Regions from separate parts of the Homo sapiens genome. Here region 2 is linked to region 1. The links come from fine-mapping of genetic effects on gene expression. A gene starts in region 1. The other region holds a variant in brackets. All regions are shown on one strand. Distances are between the middles of the regions.

Evidence for each region.
Region 2: its variant is fine-mapped to the expression of TCF3 in whole blood (TOPMed, PIP 0.94).

What each region holds. Positions count from the first base shown.
Region 1 is chr19:1,648,389-1,656,823 of GRCh38, reverse strand. TCF3 (transcription factor 3) reads left to right here and starts at 4,209. Exons shown (of 19, transcript NM_003200.5): 1 at 4,209-4,524; 2 at 6,537-6,647. The coding sequence starts at 6,576. RefSeq lists enhancers at 3,471-3,580, 3,701-3,750, 7,169-7,668, 7,681-7,990, 8,331-8,435 and silencers at 4,041-4,090, 4,101-4,230, 4,761-4,840, 4,931-5,160, 4,968-5,190 and 1 more.
Region 2 is chr19:1,617,299-1,625,298 of GRCh38, reverse strand. TCF3 (transcription factor 3) reads left to right here. Exons shown (of 19, transcript NM_003200.5): 8 at 1,299-1,348; 9 at 2,884-2,986; 10 at 3,076-3,245; 11 at 3,329-3,461; 12 at 4,108-4,166; 13 at 4,253-4,331; 14 at 5,446-5,519; 15 at 5,825-5,983; 16 at 6,065-6,188. Among named protein-coding and RNA genes, the nearest start is that of UQCR11, 16 kb to the right of the region's middle. The variant G/T (reference allele first, on the strand shown) is at 3,002.

The DNA.
Region 1 (8,435 bases):
TGCCCAGGTCCAACCAGCAAGCCTGGAGACGCCTCCTCCCAGAAGGCAGGAAGAATGGGGCCGGGTGTGGTGGCTCATGCTGGTAAGCCCATCACTTTGGGTAGGCCAAGGCAGGAAGATCGCTTGAGGCCAGGAGTTCTAGACCAGCCTGGGCGACAGGGTGAAACCCCGTCTCTATAAAAAAATACAAAAATTAGCCAGGCGTGGCAGTGGGCACCTATAATCCCAGCTACTCAGGAGGCTGAGGCAGGAGAATCGCTTGACCCCAGGAGGTGGAGGTTGTAGTGAGCTGAGCTGGCACCACTGCCCTCCAGCCTGGACGACAGAGTGAGATTTCATCTAAAAAAAAAAATTTTTTTTTAAGAGATGGGGTCTTGCTGTGTTGTCCAGTCTGGTCTCAAACTCCTGGGCTCAAGCGATCCTTCCACCTCACCCCATCTCTGCTAAAATAAAATAAAAACGAAGTTGTGGAGAATAAGGGAATGGGCCCTACCCTGGCCGAGTCCCAGCCCAGGGCTCTGTGGGGTGGTCCTGATCTGGTCGTGTTGGGATCAGGCCCCTCACTGGAGGTCTGAGCTCGAGCAGGAAGCCCCCACTTTGGGAGGCGACACCGATCGCCCCAGCTGCCCGTGCTCAGTGGACGCCGGAGCGAGGTTTGTCCCAGGGCCTGACGTGGGTGATAAGTGCTGGGCCGCCACTCCCTTCTCCGCCCCTGCTGGAGGGCGCTGGGGGTTGGGGGAGTGTGTTCATACCCTGGGAGAAGTCAAAGGTGCCCACTTTAGGGACAAATGGAAACAGAAATCTGGAGGGTGGCCCCGAAGTCCTAATCCAAGCCCAGTCTCTCTGCGGACAGCTGTGGCCTGCACACCTACTGCGTCTGTCTCTGGAAACCTCGCCATCGCCGCCCCTCGCCCCCCTCGCTTCTGTGTCTCCCTAGTGGGAAGTTGTCCTTGGCCTCAGTTTTTCTGACATACGTGGTTCATGTTGGCGGGGGCGCACACAGTAGGTGTGGAGGGAACAGGCGGCAGGTGCAGAGGCCCTGCTCCTCCTCCTGCCCGGCCCCAGAGCAAAACAAAGGCCACAGTCAGGAGGATAGCTTGCTGCCTGTCCCCGTACCAGGGCCCTGGAGGGAGCACCCAGGCCTCGGGGCTGGGCAGAGGTGGTGGCCAAGTGGGGGGCCCCCACGGGCTGCTCCACCCAGTGACTCAGCCCCAGGACTGACCTCCTTGGGGAAAACAATGGTGGCTTGTGGTTACCAGCGGAACCTCCTGGCAGGCGCGAGCCCCAGGGTGCCCTGGGGCCCAGGGAGGAGACCCCTAGTCTCAGTTTCCTCATCTGTACGATACGTGGAACCACACAGGCAGGAGGACCTCACAGGAAAGAGCCACATTCAGGACTAGACAAGGGGTCCCTCATGGGTCATCCTGCCGGGACAGCAGGGACTGAGTCCATCACTGTCCACAGTGCTACGATGCGCGGCACAAGGCCCCGTTCGCTGTCAGTGCCCGATAATTGAATAGTCTTGTACGGCGCAGTGGCACACGCCTGTAATCCCAGCACTCTGGGAAGCCAAGGCGGGAGGATCACTTGTGCCTAGGAGTTCAAGACCAGCCTGGGCAACATAGGGAGAACCCCGTCTCTACAAAAAATACAAAATTAGCTGGGTGTGGTGGCGCGTGCCTGTGGTCCCAGCTACTCGGGAAACTGAGGCGGGAGGATCGTTTGAGCCCAGGAGGTCAAGGCTGCAGTGAGCTGTGATCTCACCACTGCACTCCAGCCTGGGCAACAGAGCGAGACTCTTTCTCAAAATAATAATAATAATAATAAGAAGAAGAAGAAGAAGAAGAAGAAGAAGAAGAAGTCCGTGATTGGATGGTTGCTTCCCTTCCGTGGGTGAAACTGAAGGGCTCCTCGGGAGGACTCCGGCTGCCACACTATGGCTTGGACCCTGAGTGTGGGTGGGGAGTGGCCCACAGTGAGCTCCCTACACTGGAATGGGGAGAGCCAGACCCGGCCACAGACACCCTCAGACCCATGGGGTCAGGGCTGGGCCACAAGGAAGGGCCGGGGGCTGAGGAGGCTGGGGTGGGATTGGAGCTGCTTGGAGACCCTGGCTCCGGAGAGGCCTCTGCGGGGGTGGGGGGCGGCTGAGGAAGGCAGGCATCAGCTGTGAGCACCTACTGTGTGCCAGACTCCCCCCTTCCACTGTCCAGATGGAGAAACCGAGGCCCGGAGAGTAGCACGAACTTGCCTGAGGTCACAGTGAGGTGGAGAGGGATGAGGGATTTGCAGCACAGACCCTGGGACCCACAGCCCTCTCCCCAGACCTGCGGCACGTGGAACTCTCTGGGCACGGAGGGTCGGACTGTGGACAGCCCAGTTTGGGTGTATAGCAGGAGGGGCTTGTGGCTTTGGTGGGGGGCCCCTGTGGCCCCGCCTCCCCGCCGGCCTGGCATAGGTGCAGCATTGAACTGTGATGACTCAGGGGCTCCAGATAGGGGTGGGAAAAGCCTCCCAGGTAGAGGACAAAGCAAACGTAGAGGCCCGGGGTGGGGATGAGCTTAGCAAGTTCTGGACCATCCAGAGGGCAGGATGGCTGGAGCCAAGCGGGCCAGCGAGATGGTGGCATCTTCCCAGGCTGGGAGTGGAGTGTAAATTTCCCTTTGGGGCCCCAGGGAGCCCTGGGAGATTGTGTTATTTTCATTTATTTGTTTAGTTATTTTACTTTTTTTTTTGAGACGGAGCCTCGTTCTGTCGCCCAGCCTGGAGTGCAGTGCTGCGATCTCTGCTCACTGCAACCTCTGCCTCCTGGGTTTAAGCGATTCTCCTGCCTCAGCTTCCCGAGTAGCTGAGATTATAGGTGTATGCCACCACGCCCAGCTAATTTTTGTATTTTTATTTTATTTTACTTATTTATTTATTTATTTTGAGACGGAGTTTCGTCCTTGTTGCCCAGGCTGGAGTACAATGGCGTGCTCTCGGCTCATTGCAACCTCCGCCTTTCGGGTGAAAGCGATTCTGCTGCCTCAGCCTCCCGAGTAGCTAGGACTACAGGTGCCCGCCACCATGCCCGGCTAATTTTTGTATTTTTAGTAGAGATGGGGTTTCACCGTGTTGGCCAGAGAGGTCTCGAACTCCTGACTTCAGGTGATCTGCCCGCCTTGGCCTCCCAAAGTGCTGGGAATACAAGCGTGGGCCACCGCGTCCGGTCAACTTTTTAAATTATTATTTTAAATTATTTTAAATATTTTTAGAGACGGGTGTGGGTGGGGGGGGTTTCACTATGTTGTTCAGGCTGTTCTCGAACTCCTGGCCTCAAGCGATCTTCCCGCCTCGGCCTCCTTCAAAGCGCTGGGATCACAGGCAGGAGCCACGGCGCCCGATCCTAGGCGGGGTCACTTTTTACTAAAATGTAGACACGGACTACTAAGAATCAGGAAGCCAGATCTGGCCTGAGTTCTGTCCAAAGTCAGGTCCAAATTCACAGATGCCGAGACGGAGACTCAAGTCGGCAAAGGCACCGCTGAGACTCCCCGCGGGGCTCTCTGACCCAGAGCCGGAGCCAGAGTCGGTTTTCCCGCCGGGAAAATGGGTCTGACGTAGCCCCCTCGGGGCCGTGATACCCGCTCGCACCACTCAGCACGCGGGGCCGGCCCGAGGAACGCAAATATAACCAAGCAGAAGGCTCCGCGCGGGCGGCCACGCCAACCTGAGAACAAAACTCCAGGACCCACCCCGGCCGCCTCTCGCGGCCTCTCGCTCGCAGAGTCCCGCCTCTGCTGAGGGGCGGGGCCGAGAAGAAAGGAGGCGGGGCCTCACCACGAATGGCTAGGATCCCCGCCCATCAGACTTTCGCGGCTTCCGATTGACCAGACTGCTCTGCCTTAGCTTTCAATCTCACGGGCCTTACTCGCTTGCGTCATGGACTAAGCGCACAGCTCGTGTGTGCTTCCGCGGACGGGGATAGTCCGTGATTTCTCCCCGCGCCGTGGCCCGACCGCCTCCTCTGCGCGTCCCCGCTCCCAGGCTCTGGACCTCACGGGATTCGGGGTCCTCACGAGGGTGCTCGAGAGGCCGAGCTAGGGCGTTCGGGCCCGAGCCGCCCGGAGGTGGCGGAGGGATCCGCGTGGGCCGCCGGGCGGGGCACTCGGGGGCGGGGCAGGGGCGGGGCCTGCACGGGGCGGGGCGGGGCGGCGCGGGCGGGGGGCGGAACATGTCTCCCGCCGCAGGAAGATGAGGCAGCGGCGGCGGCTGCGGGCGTAGCGGGCCGGAGCCGACGCGGCGGCGGGCACCGCGGGCACCGCGCACGCCGCTGCCCCAGGGGCGCCCCGGCCGGCCGCGCGCACGGGCCCCGCGGGACGGGCCACGCGGGGGTGGGAGGGGCCCGGGCCACGCGCGCCGCCGCCGCCGCCCACGCGCGACCCTCGGGGGCCCGGCCGCGACGCACCTTTGTCCGGGGGGGGGCCCCCCCGCTTCATGCCGCCGCCCCCCCCCACGCGCCGCGTGCCCGGCCGCGCCCAGCAGGTGAGCCCGGCGGGGGGCGGGGGGCGCGCCCGGTACCCCCGTGCTTTGTGCCCAGGGAACCCCGGCCCGCCCCGCGCGCGCTTGTTGGGGGGGGGCGCGGAGGAAGTTGGGGCGGGGGCGGTGTCGGGGGGCGCCCCGCGGCCCGGGAGTCATTGTTCTCCAACTTCGCGCGGCGCCGGGGGGGCGGCGACGTGGAGGAGCCCGGAGCTCGCCAGGCCCGCGTCGCCCCCGTCGGGCCGGGCACTTCGGGAAACTTTAAGCAGCCCCGGGCGGGGGCGCGGGGGGCGCCGGACGGGCTGTGCAACTTAGGCGCGAGGACCGTCCCCCCCAGCCCGGGCGCACGGGGACCCCGGGGCGCCCCCTTTCTCGGGTAGAGGGGGGCCCGGCCCGGGCGCCGGAGTTTGGGGTGGGGAGCGCGCGGGAGGGACGTCCTTTTGTCTGCGCGGGGAAGGTGCCGCGCGCTGCAGGCGCTGGTCGGGGCCGGGCGGGCCGGGGGGGGGCGCGCGGGTAACATCTGCTCCGCGTTAATGCGGGGCGAGGCGGCGGCCGCGCTGCGAGCTTCAAAGGCTCCCGGGCCGCACCGCCTGCACCGGCTGCGGGGGGAGGGGGGTCCGGCTTCCCGGGCCGCCTCCCCCCGGGAAAAAGGCGTTCCAGCGCGCCCCCCGCCTTCGGCGCCGTGCAAAGTGGCTTCAAACATTCTCCAAGTCTCTCAAAGTCCTTGGGACGCCCCAGAAGTCTTCCAGCTCCCGTAGAATGCCCGTTTTAGCTCGCCACCCCCCCAACTAAGTCTGTCTTAAAATCGGTTTCAGCTACCCCACAAAAAAGTGCGGTTTCGTAGTCCTCAAAAAAAGTCAGTTTCACACGCCCTCCAAAAAAGAAAAAAACTGAGCGGGGGAGGGGCTGCGCTGGGGCGCCCGCTTCACACCCGGCCTCCAGTTGGCAGACAAAGAGGGGATTTCTCTGCTTCTGAAGTTGGGTCTCCCTCGACCTCGGAGGCTCCTCCCCACCCCCAGCCTCGGAGGTGTCTCCCGGGCTGCCCCCGTCCCCACCTGGGGACCCCTGGGGAAAGTCGAGACTGGAGGGGCCTGGAGTGCATTTCTTTGGAATGGAAATTTTTCTCTGTACCTTTTTCTGGGGGTGGAATGGGTCTTGGCAGGTGGATCCCCCATCCCCCATCTTAGAATGGAGCCCCCTGGGACCACGCGGGAGCACCCTGGTCTTGAGACGCTCTCCCCGCTCATGGAGGGCAGGCAAGGGATGTTGTCAAAGTTTTGCTTAAAAATAATTCCCGGATACATCGCGACAGTAAAGCAATCTAGGGCTGTTTTTTTTTTCTTTCCTGAATACTGTTGGGGTTTTCTTGGGGGGAGGGAGATTGAGGGTGGAGGAAAGCTTTGCTGGTCCCTGCATAGGATGCGCGTCCCCCCCACCCCCGGCACTTTAAGTCTTGAAGCTTGTAAAAGAGTTTCGTGGTTTTCTGACTTGTGGATTTCCTTCATGTTGAATTTGGGGGCGACCTGGTCTTCAACGGGCTGTGCCATCTGCTGGGGGAGGGGGGAATCACCAAATTTCCCTCGGGGCGGGGTAGGATCGGGCTGTTCCTCCCTTTCCCGGGGGTAGGGGGCCTCAGAGGAAGCCCGGGGTTGGTTGGAAATGAGAGAGTTGGAGAAAGGAGAGGTTCTGGCTGCCCTGCGTGCAGTTTAAACTTGGCAACTTGATGCCCTGGTGTTCCCTGGGGGAGTTAGGGAGTTTATATTTGCACACCCTCCCCCCATTTTTCAGACTCCCTGTGGTCTCTGGGGAGGACTCTGCAGGGACCTAGACTCTGGAATTCCAGCTTCCCTGCGCCTGCTCCCAGGGCTCCCCGTGCCCCCAGGGCTCTGCTGGAACTCAGACCCCAGGGCGGTTGAGGGTTTTTTAGGTGGCTTTTAGCACTCTGTGCTTTGACCACTCACAACTCTTCTCCCCTCCCTGTTTCTCCCTGTCCATCTGTCCCCACATCCACCAAGCAGGGTTTCCAGGCCTGAGGTGCCCGCCCTGGCCCCAGGAGAATGAACCAGCCGCAGAGGATGGCGCCTGTGGGCACAGACAAGGAGCTCAGTGACCTCCTGGACTTCAGCATGGTGAGCCAGGACCCCCGCCCAGCCCCCGACACCCCTTTGCCTCCACAGTTCACGGGAAGGTTTTCAGGGGAGAGTGTTTGCTGAATACTTCAGCGATGGAGCCTCAGCTGTTTGGATGGGAGGCCCCGGTGGGGCTGGGGGAGTGGGCCGCTCTCTGGCAGGAGGCTGACAGCGCACGGCAGCACGTGTGCTATGGGGCTTTTGCCCGGACGCAGCATTCTACAGCCTACTGCTTTACAGATGGGGAAACTGAGTCCTCAGGGGCATGGTCCTGGGCCCCCAGCTTGGCTGGGTAAGCAAAATGCGGCCTTGATCTTCTGATCTGTAAAATGGGCCTGATCAGGGTCGCTTACCTCATTGTAGATACAAAAATTAAAAGTAAGTAAAAGATCACTGCACTCCAGTCTGGTTGACAGTGAGACCCTGGAGACCCTGTTTCAGTAAATGGGAGGGGGGCTGGGCACAGTGGTTCCCACCTGTCATTCCAGCACTTTGGGAGGCTGAGGCGGGAGGATCGCTTGAGGCCAGGAGTTCCAAGTCCAGCCCAGGAAACATAGTGAGGCCCCATTTCTCAAAAAGACAAAACAAAACTCAAAAAATTAGCTAGGAGTGGTGGTAGATGCCTGTGGTCCCAGCTACTTGGGAGGCTGAGGCAAGGAGAATCACTTGAGCCCTGGAGGTTGAGGCTGCAGTGAGCTGTGATTGCGCCACTGCACTCCTTCCTGGGCGATAGAGTAAGATCCTTCCTCAAAGAAGTAAAGGAGGGGGTGCCCAGTGCTGAGCGGACCACCCTCCGTGAACAGGGCAGACACAACCTGCCCCATACGGGACTCCCCTGGTGGGCAGAGGATGCGGGCATGAAACTGACTGTGTGGTTAATTAGTCACACGTGGGTGCTGAAGTTAAGCTGCCAGAAGCCGAGCTTGGGCCAGGAGGAGGCTGGATTGGGATTGAGTGGGAATTCATGGGCCACCGAGCAGACAGCAGCGCCACCATTGTGACTGCCACGGTTATCACTGCGGAGCAGGCAGGCCCGGTGGGGAGGGCGGGGCGGCTTCTTCAGAGTCTTAGGTGGTTGGATCTGTCCCTGTACGGCCCATTCTCCACCTGGGTGAACGGAGGCTCAGAGGGTGCTGGTCCTCAGAAGTCACACAGTTCAGGCAGGTGCAGTGAGGCTGGAATGCCGGAGCCCCCTGGGGTACCGGCCGCTGACGGGTGCTGTAAAGGCCCGGGGCCTCGGTTTGCCTGCTGGTACAGTGGGGCCATGTGTTATGGGTTCCTGGAGAAGCCCAGGGACCTTGGTTTGTTTCTTCTGGCCTGTCTACAGATGTCCTTAAATTCTGCTCCCCCCCCCCCCCCATGCCCAGTGGCAGCGTTTGGGGTTGAAACAGGTTGGGGGAGGGCACTTTCAGTCTGAATTTAACCCTCCCGCCTATGAGGCACAGGCCACTGAGGTCTGTCAAAAACAAAAGTCCCCAAACTGAAACAACACCGGCCACCCTGCGGAAAAAAACAGCCCAAGGGCCGGAGGGGCCAAGGCTCCGGAAGGGCCATGCTGGTATTTTTAAGCCCCGTTTTATTTTTGCTTCCCTGGCTGAGTAACCCGAGGTGCAGTTGGGTTGTTTTTTGTTAAACTGACAAGTCACAGACCGCTGGGCTGGAACAGACCAGCGTTTGGGGGGAGGGGGCACAGGTTCAGCCCCAGGACCTGACTCCTCACCTCAAGCCACTCAGCACGTCTCCCCATCCCGGGTCGGAGCCGTTCCCAGATGAGGAAACAGGCTGGGA
Region 2 (8,000 bases), 31 kb after region 1:
GTGTCAGATGCCTCATGGGGCTGCATCGTGGCTCCTCTGCACTGAGCCCTGCTGCACACGCGGGCATCCCCCGCGAGGCACGTCACAGCCTCGGGCTCAGGAGCACTGGACGGCGCCTTGAACTACCCGGGGCCCATTCCAGGCAGCACAGTCGCCAGGCATGGCGGCACTCACCTGGGGTCCCAGCTTCTCTGGAGGCCGAGACAGGAGGATCACTTGAGGCCAAAAGTTGCAAACCATTCTGGGCAACATAGGGAGATCCCATCTTTGCGAAAAATTTTAAAAATTAGCTAAGTATGGTGGCACACACCTGTGGTCCCAGCTACTCAGGAGGCTGAGGCAGGAGGATGGTTTGACCCTGGGAGTTCGAGGCTGCAATGAGCTGCGATCGCACCATTGTACTCCAGCCTGAGCAACAGCGCAAGACCCTGCCTGAAAAAAATAAGCGTGAAATCACCCACAAAAAGCACAAAAACGTAAAAGATCGTGGCTCTGAATAGACCAAGGACAGGAGCCCCATGATGCGGGAGGAGGCCTCTGTTCCGCCTTGGCTGGGCACATGCGCCTGGGCCACTCGAACTTTTCCCACTGTGCGCACGTCCGTGAGTGATCAGGAAGGCGCCTGAGTGCTGGTTTCCGGGTTACGGATTTTATCCTGTAGGCGAGTTTGCAAACAGCAGCCCCTAGTGGTGAAGCCTGACTGCGTGGGATAGTCGGGGCCATCTTGGAAGGAGGGTGGGGCCAAGGGGCTTCTCAGCAGAGCCTTGGCTTAGAATCCACCAACTCCTCGTTTTCCAAACTGCGCGTCGCGGGAGAAAACCATCGTGGTTCTTCGACATCTTTGGAGCCGTATAAATAGACCCGGGGCTTTTTGTTGTTGTTGCTGCTGCTGCTGTTGTGTTTTGAGACGGAGTCTTTCTCTGTCCCCAGGCTGGAGTGCAGTGACACGATCTCGGCTCACTGCAGCCTCTGCCTCCCGGGTTCAAGTGATTCTCCTGCCTCGGCCTCCCGAGTAGCTGGAATTATAGGCACCCGCCACCACGCCCGGCTACTTTTTGTATTTTCAGTAGAGACGGGGTTTCACTGTGTTGGCCAGGATGGTCTTGATCTCTTGACCTCGTGATCTGCCTGCCTTGGCCTCCCAAAGTCCTGGTATTACAGGCATGAGGCACCGCACCCAGCCGACCCGAGGTTTTTAATATATGAAACGGGAATTGTGAGGGTCTCTCCTCCAGGGTGTAGGGCAGGGGTTGTTCTCATGGCCGGTGGCCGGTTCTCACCCCTTTTGCTTCTAACAGACACGCAGCCCAAGAAGGTCCGGAAGGTCCCGCCGGGTCTTCCATCCTCGGTGAGTCGCACGAGGGAGAAGGGACCCCACAGCTCGTCAGTGGCAGTGCCAGGCCCTGTGTCCTGGCGAAGCTTGGGAACACACATGGCGGGGTGGGCCCTGAGTGGACAGGCCCCCTGTGATTTCTGAGCCAAGATCTGAGCTCTGACCCGAGGCCGCCTCCAAGGGAAGGCGGGGAAGTCCTTCCCTAGGTCCAGCCTCTGTCTGTCTTGTTTTGAGAGAAAGGCAGTCCTGGTGGCTGAGGCCCCTTTAGAAAGGGCACAATTGTGCTGGGTGTGGTGGCTCATGCCTGTCATCCCAGCGCTTTGGGAGGCCGAGGTGGGTGGATCACCTGAGGTCAGGAGTTCTAGATCAGCCTAGTCAACATGGTGAAACCCCATCTCTACTAAAAATACAAAAATCAGCCGGGCGTGGTGGTGCGTGCCTGTAATCCCAGCTACTTGGGAGGCTGAGGCAGAAGAATCGTTTGAACCCAGGAGGCGGAGGTTGCAGTGAGCCAAGATCATGCCGCTGCCCTCCAGCCTGAGCAACAGAGTGAGACTCTGTCTCAAAAAAAAAAAAAAAAAAAGCGGGGGGTGCCGCAATTGGGGCTCCCTGTTACATCCTCACAGCTTCAGGCTGCCCCGCATCCCTGCCTCCCTACCAGGCCTCGCAGATGGTCCAGGCTGCTGTGCCACACTCCTGCGGTCTCATCTCGCTGGAGGGAGAGGGAATTTGCCGATTCCCTGGCTCAGTAGCCACCAACCACCCTCTGCCCAGTGCCTGTGCTGGCCCCAAGAGCCCTGGGCATACATCTCCTCACCCCTCCAGCCGACCAGCTCCCCACAGGCCTGGGTTCGGGGTTAGAGTCAGGTTGACTTCCCAGGCCAAAGGCGTGGTCAGGCTCTGCTCCCAACAGTATCACTCACTCCCCTCCTTCCCCAGGGTGCACTTTCTCTGCCCTGAAACCGCCCCCCAGTTTATTACAACATCAGGCCCACCCAGCATACTTCCCGCTCCAGCACAGCAGCAGACGTTACCAACAGGCCCCAGCCCCACAGTCCAGGCAGTGCCAACCAGTCAGAGCTGGCGCTACTCACAGACCCCTCTTCCTGTTACTTTAGTGAAGGACGAATGTTGCTCTGGGACCAAGGGAAGCTCAGCACTGGAAGATTGATTCCAGCTGGGGAACAAGGGAGAAGGATGGGATGGGGTGTTGGAGCTGGGGTTTTGATGGGTCGATAGGAGTTTTCTGGATTAAGGAGGAAAAAGGTTTAGTAGGCAGAGCCAGATCCAAGTCCTCAAGTACAAAGGTCAGAAGTTCAGGGAGGCGGGAGGTGGGGGCTGGAAAAGGAGTAGGAGAGAGAGACCAGGACATCATAAGAACCTCAAACTTGGCCAGGGGCTGGGATTTACCTAAAGGGGGGTGGCTTTACAGGGAAGGGAAACGGGGTGGTAGATGTGCTACCAGGAGGGGACAGGAGGCCGGCAAGGTGCATGGGCTGATCGTGGTCCCTCCGTCCTGACTGCACCCCCCACCGCCCACCCGCCCGCAGGTGTACCCACCCAGCTCAGGTGAGGACTACGGCAGGGATGCCACCGCCTACCCGTCCGCCAAGACCCCCAGCAGCACCTATCCCGCCCCCTTCTACGTGGCAGGTACATGGCAGGGCG[G/T]GGGCTCGCCAGGGACGGTAGGGCAGGGCTGGGGTTCCCCACTCGGCCCCCACCTTACCAGCTCCCCTCCACAGATGGCAGCCTGCACCCCTCAGCCGAGCTCTGGAGTCCCCCGGGCCAGGCGGGCTTCGGGCCCATGCTGGGTGGGGGCTCATCCCCGCTGCCCCTCCCGCCCGGTAGCGGCCCGGTGGGCAGCAGTGGAAGCAGCAGCACGTTTGGTGGCCTGCACCAGCACGAGCGTATGGTAGGACCCAGGGCAGGGGGCAGGGGGTGGGCGGAGGGTGGCAGTGCCCATCTAACCCACCCTCCTCCTGCCTGACCCCCCAGGGCTACCAGCTGCATGGAGCAGAGGTGAACGGTGGGCTCCCATCTGCATCCTCCTTCTCCTCAGCCCCCGGAGCCACGTACGGCGGCGTCTCCAGCCACACGCCGCCTGTCAGCGGGGCCGACAGCCTCCTGGGTATGGCCCCTCCCTGGGATGCGGCCTCTCCGAGGGGACACTGGGCTCCAGGCAGGGTCTGGGTGGGGGGTGGCGAGGACTCCACGGGAGGCGCAGGCGCGTCTGCTGGCCCTGAGAGCGGGTTGTTGTCAGTTCTCATTGTCCGCTGTCTGCAGGGCCTGCCACGTGCGTTGGGCTTGGGATGTCTGGAAACAGATCTTTGAGGAGCGGCTTTCCCGCCTTACAGCTGGGAAAGAGGCTCAGAGAGGGACTCACCCACCCAGGGTCAGAGAGGGACTCACCCACCCAGGGTCAGAGAGGGACTCACCCACCCAGGCCCAGAGAGGGACTCACCCACCCAGGCCCAGAGAGGGACTCAGTTACCCAGGCCCAGAGAGGGACTCACCCATCCAGGCCCAGAGGGGGACTCACCCACCCAGGCCCAGAAGGGGACTCACCCACCCAGGGTCCCCTGCCAGTGGCCTGTCCCCAGTGCCTCAACCCCTGCAGAGGCTGGTTTCAGGGGGTCAGACAGAAACCGGACCCGAGTCAGGCTGCTCTCCCTGGCGCAGCAGTGTCTGTGCAGGACGGCAGAACGCAGGAGAGCTTGCCGTCGGCGGCAGCACCCAGGCCGGGCTGCGTGGGCCTCACCTCTCTTCACCCACAGGCTCCCGAGGGACCACAGCTGGCAGCTCCGGGGATGCCCTCGGCAAAGCACTGGCCTCGGTGAGGCGTGGGGCATGGGGGGTGGCCAGGCAAGTGACCTGAGAGGCCGGCCCCTGACCGCCCATCTCTCCTGGTCCTCCTCGCAGATCTACTCCCCGGATCACTCAAGCAATAACTTCTCGTCCAGCCCTTCTACCCCCGTGGGCTCCCCCCAGGGCCTGGCAGGTCTGTGAGGGTTTTGGGGGGAGGGGAGGCTGAGGTCTGTGAGGGTTTGGGGGGAGGGGAGGCTGAGGTCTGTGAAGGCTTTGCGGGGGAGGGGAGGCTGGTTCTGGTGTCTGCACCTTGCTGGGATAGGCAGGCAGCGGGGAGGGAGCAGATGGCCCCCAAGGGCCCGTGGCATCGCTGGTCAGGAACCGACGGTGGAAGGGAGTCCCCCATGGGCTTGTGTTCCACTGGGCAATCCAGGAAAGCTGCCTAGTGGAGGCAGCCTCCAAGCCAGCCCTCCAAGGCTATAGCACATAACCAGGCAGTGAGGGAGGGCTGGGAGGTGGCGTCCAGGTTAGGTCACAGCACAGGCAAAGCCAGGAGGCAGGACCTGGCAGTTCACACTGCGTGAACATGAGGGGACATTGGCGTGCCTAGCAGCTCCCAGGTCCGATGGGGCCAGCATCGCCAGGGCTGTGGCCTGGACTCTAGAATGTGTGCGTGTTGCCATTTGCTCACCCACTGGGTATTTATTAGGTACTGACTGTTTACCCTGTGCGGTGCTCCGGCATGGGAGGGCAGACCCTCCTATCCCTGTGAGGACGTGCTTGCTTATCCGCAGGGGGTCGGGGGCAGGTACAGGAGGAGGGGGAGTGAGAACTGGAGGTTTCCAGAAGGTCTGGGTGTTTAAAAACACCCGTGAGTCCTCATCTCTGCCCCCATGGGAAGCGCCAGGAACCCTCACTTCACCTCGGCCTGTCTGGTCCCACCTGGAGCTTGCCACTTTCTTGCCTGCTGCTGGAGCCCAGCGTGGGTCAGCCAGGGTGGGGCAGCATGGGGAGGAGCCCCCTACTGTGTGCTGCCGAGCCACTTTATCCTCTGAGTGGGGAGTTGGATTTTGTAGATGGGGAAACTGAGGCTCAGAGATAGGAATGGCAGTACCCACTGGGCACCCAGCATCCCTGCCTGGCGGGGCCGAGCAGCTTTGCATCAGTGTGGGGTGCCCCGGAATGGCCATCTTGGGCATCACCGGAGGCTGGACAGGCGGGGTGGTTCATGAATCCCTCCCCATGGGCATCAGGCCATGCTCACACCCCGCCCCTCGCACCCCATTCACGTCCCCACTCCCTTCCAGGAACGTCACAGTGGCCTCGAGCAGGAGCCCCCGGTGCCTTATCGCCCAGCTACGACGGGGGTCTCCACGGCCTGGTGAGTGCCTGCCCCGCCCCACCCCACCCTTCCCCGACAGAATTTGCAGGACAGACGCTCCTTGAGAAGGAGAAACCTTTTTGTTAGTTTCTTGTAAATAAGCCCCAAGCTGTTATTGAGGCCTCGTGGCCGCCAAGGCACACACATTTTGTGTGTGCTCCCGGGCGCCAGATGCCTGGCATATGCAGCTTCCTGGGGAAGGGGAAGATGGGACCACCGGCCACTTGCATGCGGAAGGGACATGAATGGAGGCCTGTGGGGTCCCTCGGCTTGGGCCCCTCACCACCCATCCCCCCACCCTGCAGCAGAGTAAGATAGAAGACCACCTGGACGAGGCCATCCACGTGCTCCGCAGCCACGCCGTGGGCACAGCCGGCGACATGCACACGCTGCTGCCTGGCCACGGGGCGCTGGCCTCAGGTTTCACCGGCCCCATGTCACTGGGCGGGCGGCACGCAGGCCTGGTGAGCGCTGGGCGAGGGTGGAGCTGGGCAGTGGGCGGGGACCCGGCTCCCCCTGATGCACCCGTCTCCCCACGCCTGCAGGTTGGAGGCAGCCACCCCGAGGACGGCCTCGCAGGCAGCACCAGCCTCATGCACAACCACGCGGCCCTCCCCAGCCAGCCAGGCACCCTCCCTGACCTGTCTCGGCCTCCCGACTCCTACAGTGGTAAGCCCTTGAGCTTGGGACTGTCCGACTCCTGGTTCCAGTTGGGGAAACTGAGGCACTCTAGTGGTGGGGGTCAGGGTGGGAGCCCAGGGCAGGTGTCACCGTGGGGGCACCTGGTGACATGGGCGCCCCAGTCAGCAACTTCAGGAGGGTGGGTAAGACCGGCGGGGCCGGCGTTGGCCCTGGGCGTGTGAGGTGGACAGCTCTGGGCTGCCTCTTCATTCGCCTGCTCCCAGACGCTGTGTGCCTGGCAGCGCTCAGCACTGGGGAAGGGGCGAGGGGTGCAGCAGGATGCCTCTGCCTCAGGGGAGACAGACCAGGAGCTCGCTGCACAGTACAGGTGCCAGGGAGAAGGAACGAAGTGGCTGCGGTGGGTTGGGGGTTTTGTATGGCTTTGAAGATGGTGGCCCATGAGGCCACAAGGTGGTGTTTGGGCAGCATCTGGGAGGAGGCAAGAGTAGGCAAGTACCTGGAGGAGGAGGGTTTCAGGCAGAGGGCGCAGCCCAGGCAAAGGCCCTGGGGCTGGACTGCACCTGGGAGGAACAGCCAGGAGACCCGTGGGGTTGGAGCAGAGTGAGGAGAGGGAGAGAGGGAAGGGGGGAGGGCGGGGCAGGGCAGGTCATGCGGGGCCTTGTGGGCTGCGGGGAGGACTTGGGATTTGGCCATGAGAAAGGTGGCAGCCGTGGAGGGCTGAGGAGGGATGGGACCTGACCCAGGTGCTCACAGATACCCTCTGGTGGCTGCTTGGAGGACAGACTATGAGTGGCACCGGGAGACCAAGGCAGAGGCCACAGGGCTGGTCCAGGGGCCTTGGAGGGGTGAGCAGTGGGTGGGCCCTGCATCTCCTGAAGGCGGGGCCCACAGGATTTGTGATGGACAGGACTTGAGGGTGAGAGAAGGCAGGGTGGCTCTGGGATTTCTGGCCCGAGCTGTGGGTGACACTGGGGCTGGGAACTCCGTAAGGAAGGGGACAAAGGAAAAGGTTGGGGACAAATCTGGACCTGGGCCTGGGGATTGTTGAGTGTCTCAGACACCCATGAGAGGCCCAGGAGAAGGTGGGGTCATTGTGGGCGCTGTCCTGGCCCTGTGCCTTCCACCAGCCCAGGAATCCTGCCTGCTTTCCAGGCAGACTTTCCAAGTACCTTGATTCTATCACTCCTAGGCCAGGGCATCTCACCGCAGCGGCTCTGCCCCCAGGGGACACTGGGTGATGTCTGGGGACATCTACAGTTGTCAGGGCTGAGGGGAGCTCCTGGCATGGAGTGGGTGGGGGCCAGGGATGCTGCTCAGCACCCTGCAGTGCCCAGGACGGCCCCACCCCAGAGAAGGGTCCGGACCCACAGGTCAGCAGTTTCCAGGGGCAGCCCCAAGCTTAGTCTTTCACCCATAGGCTCCCCTCTGTTTCCTTCCTGTCCTTCACTTCGTGTGCTGAGGCCTGGGCTGGTCCTGGTGGCTGGCGTTGGCCGATTGGAGCAGAGTTCACTGTGGGGAGCGGGTGCATTTCTGAGGCTCCCCCTCAGGGTACGGGGGTCTCAGGGGATGGCAGCTGGTTTGCTCCATGTGAGCCCTGACTGATTCCTGGACTCCCCAAGCCCGGGTTTTGGGGGTGGCCCAGGCCCTGCTGAATGCAGAGTGGCCGCATTCATTTGGGGCACTGTGTACCCTTAAGCCACATGTTTTGCAATTATTGTTCTTGAGCTTCATGAACACGGCGTCCCACTAGCGTGTTCTTTACACGCTGGTTTGCTGGCTTATGTTGTGTGTGGGGTACATGTGTGGTGTGAGCGGCTGGGGTCCCATTGTGAGTGTGCC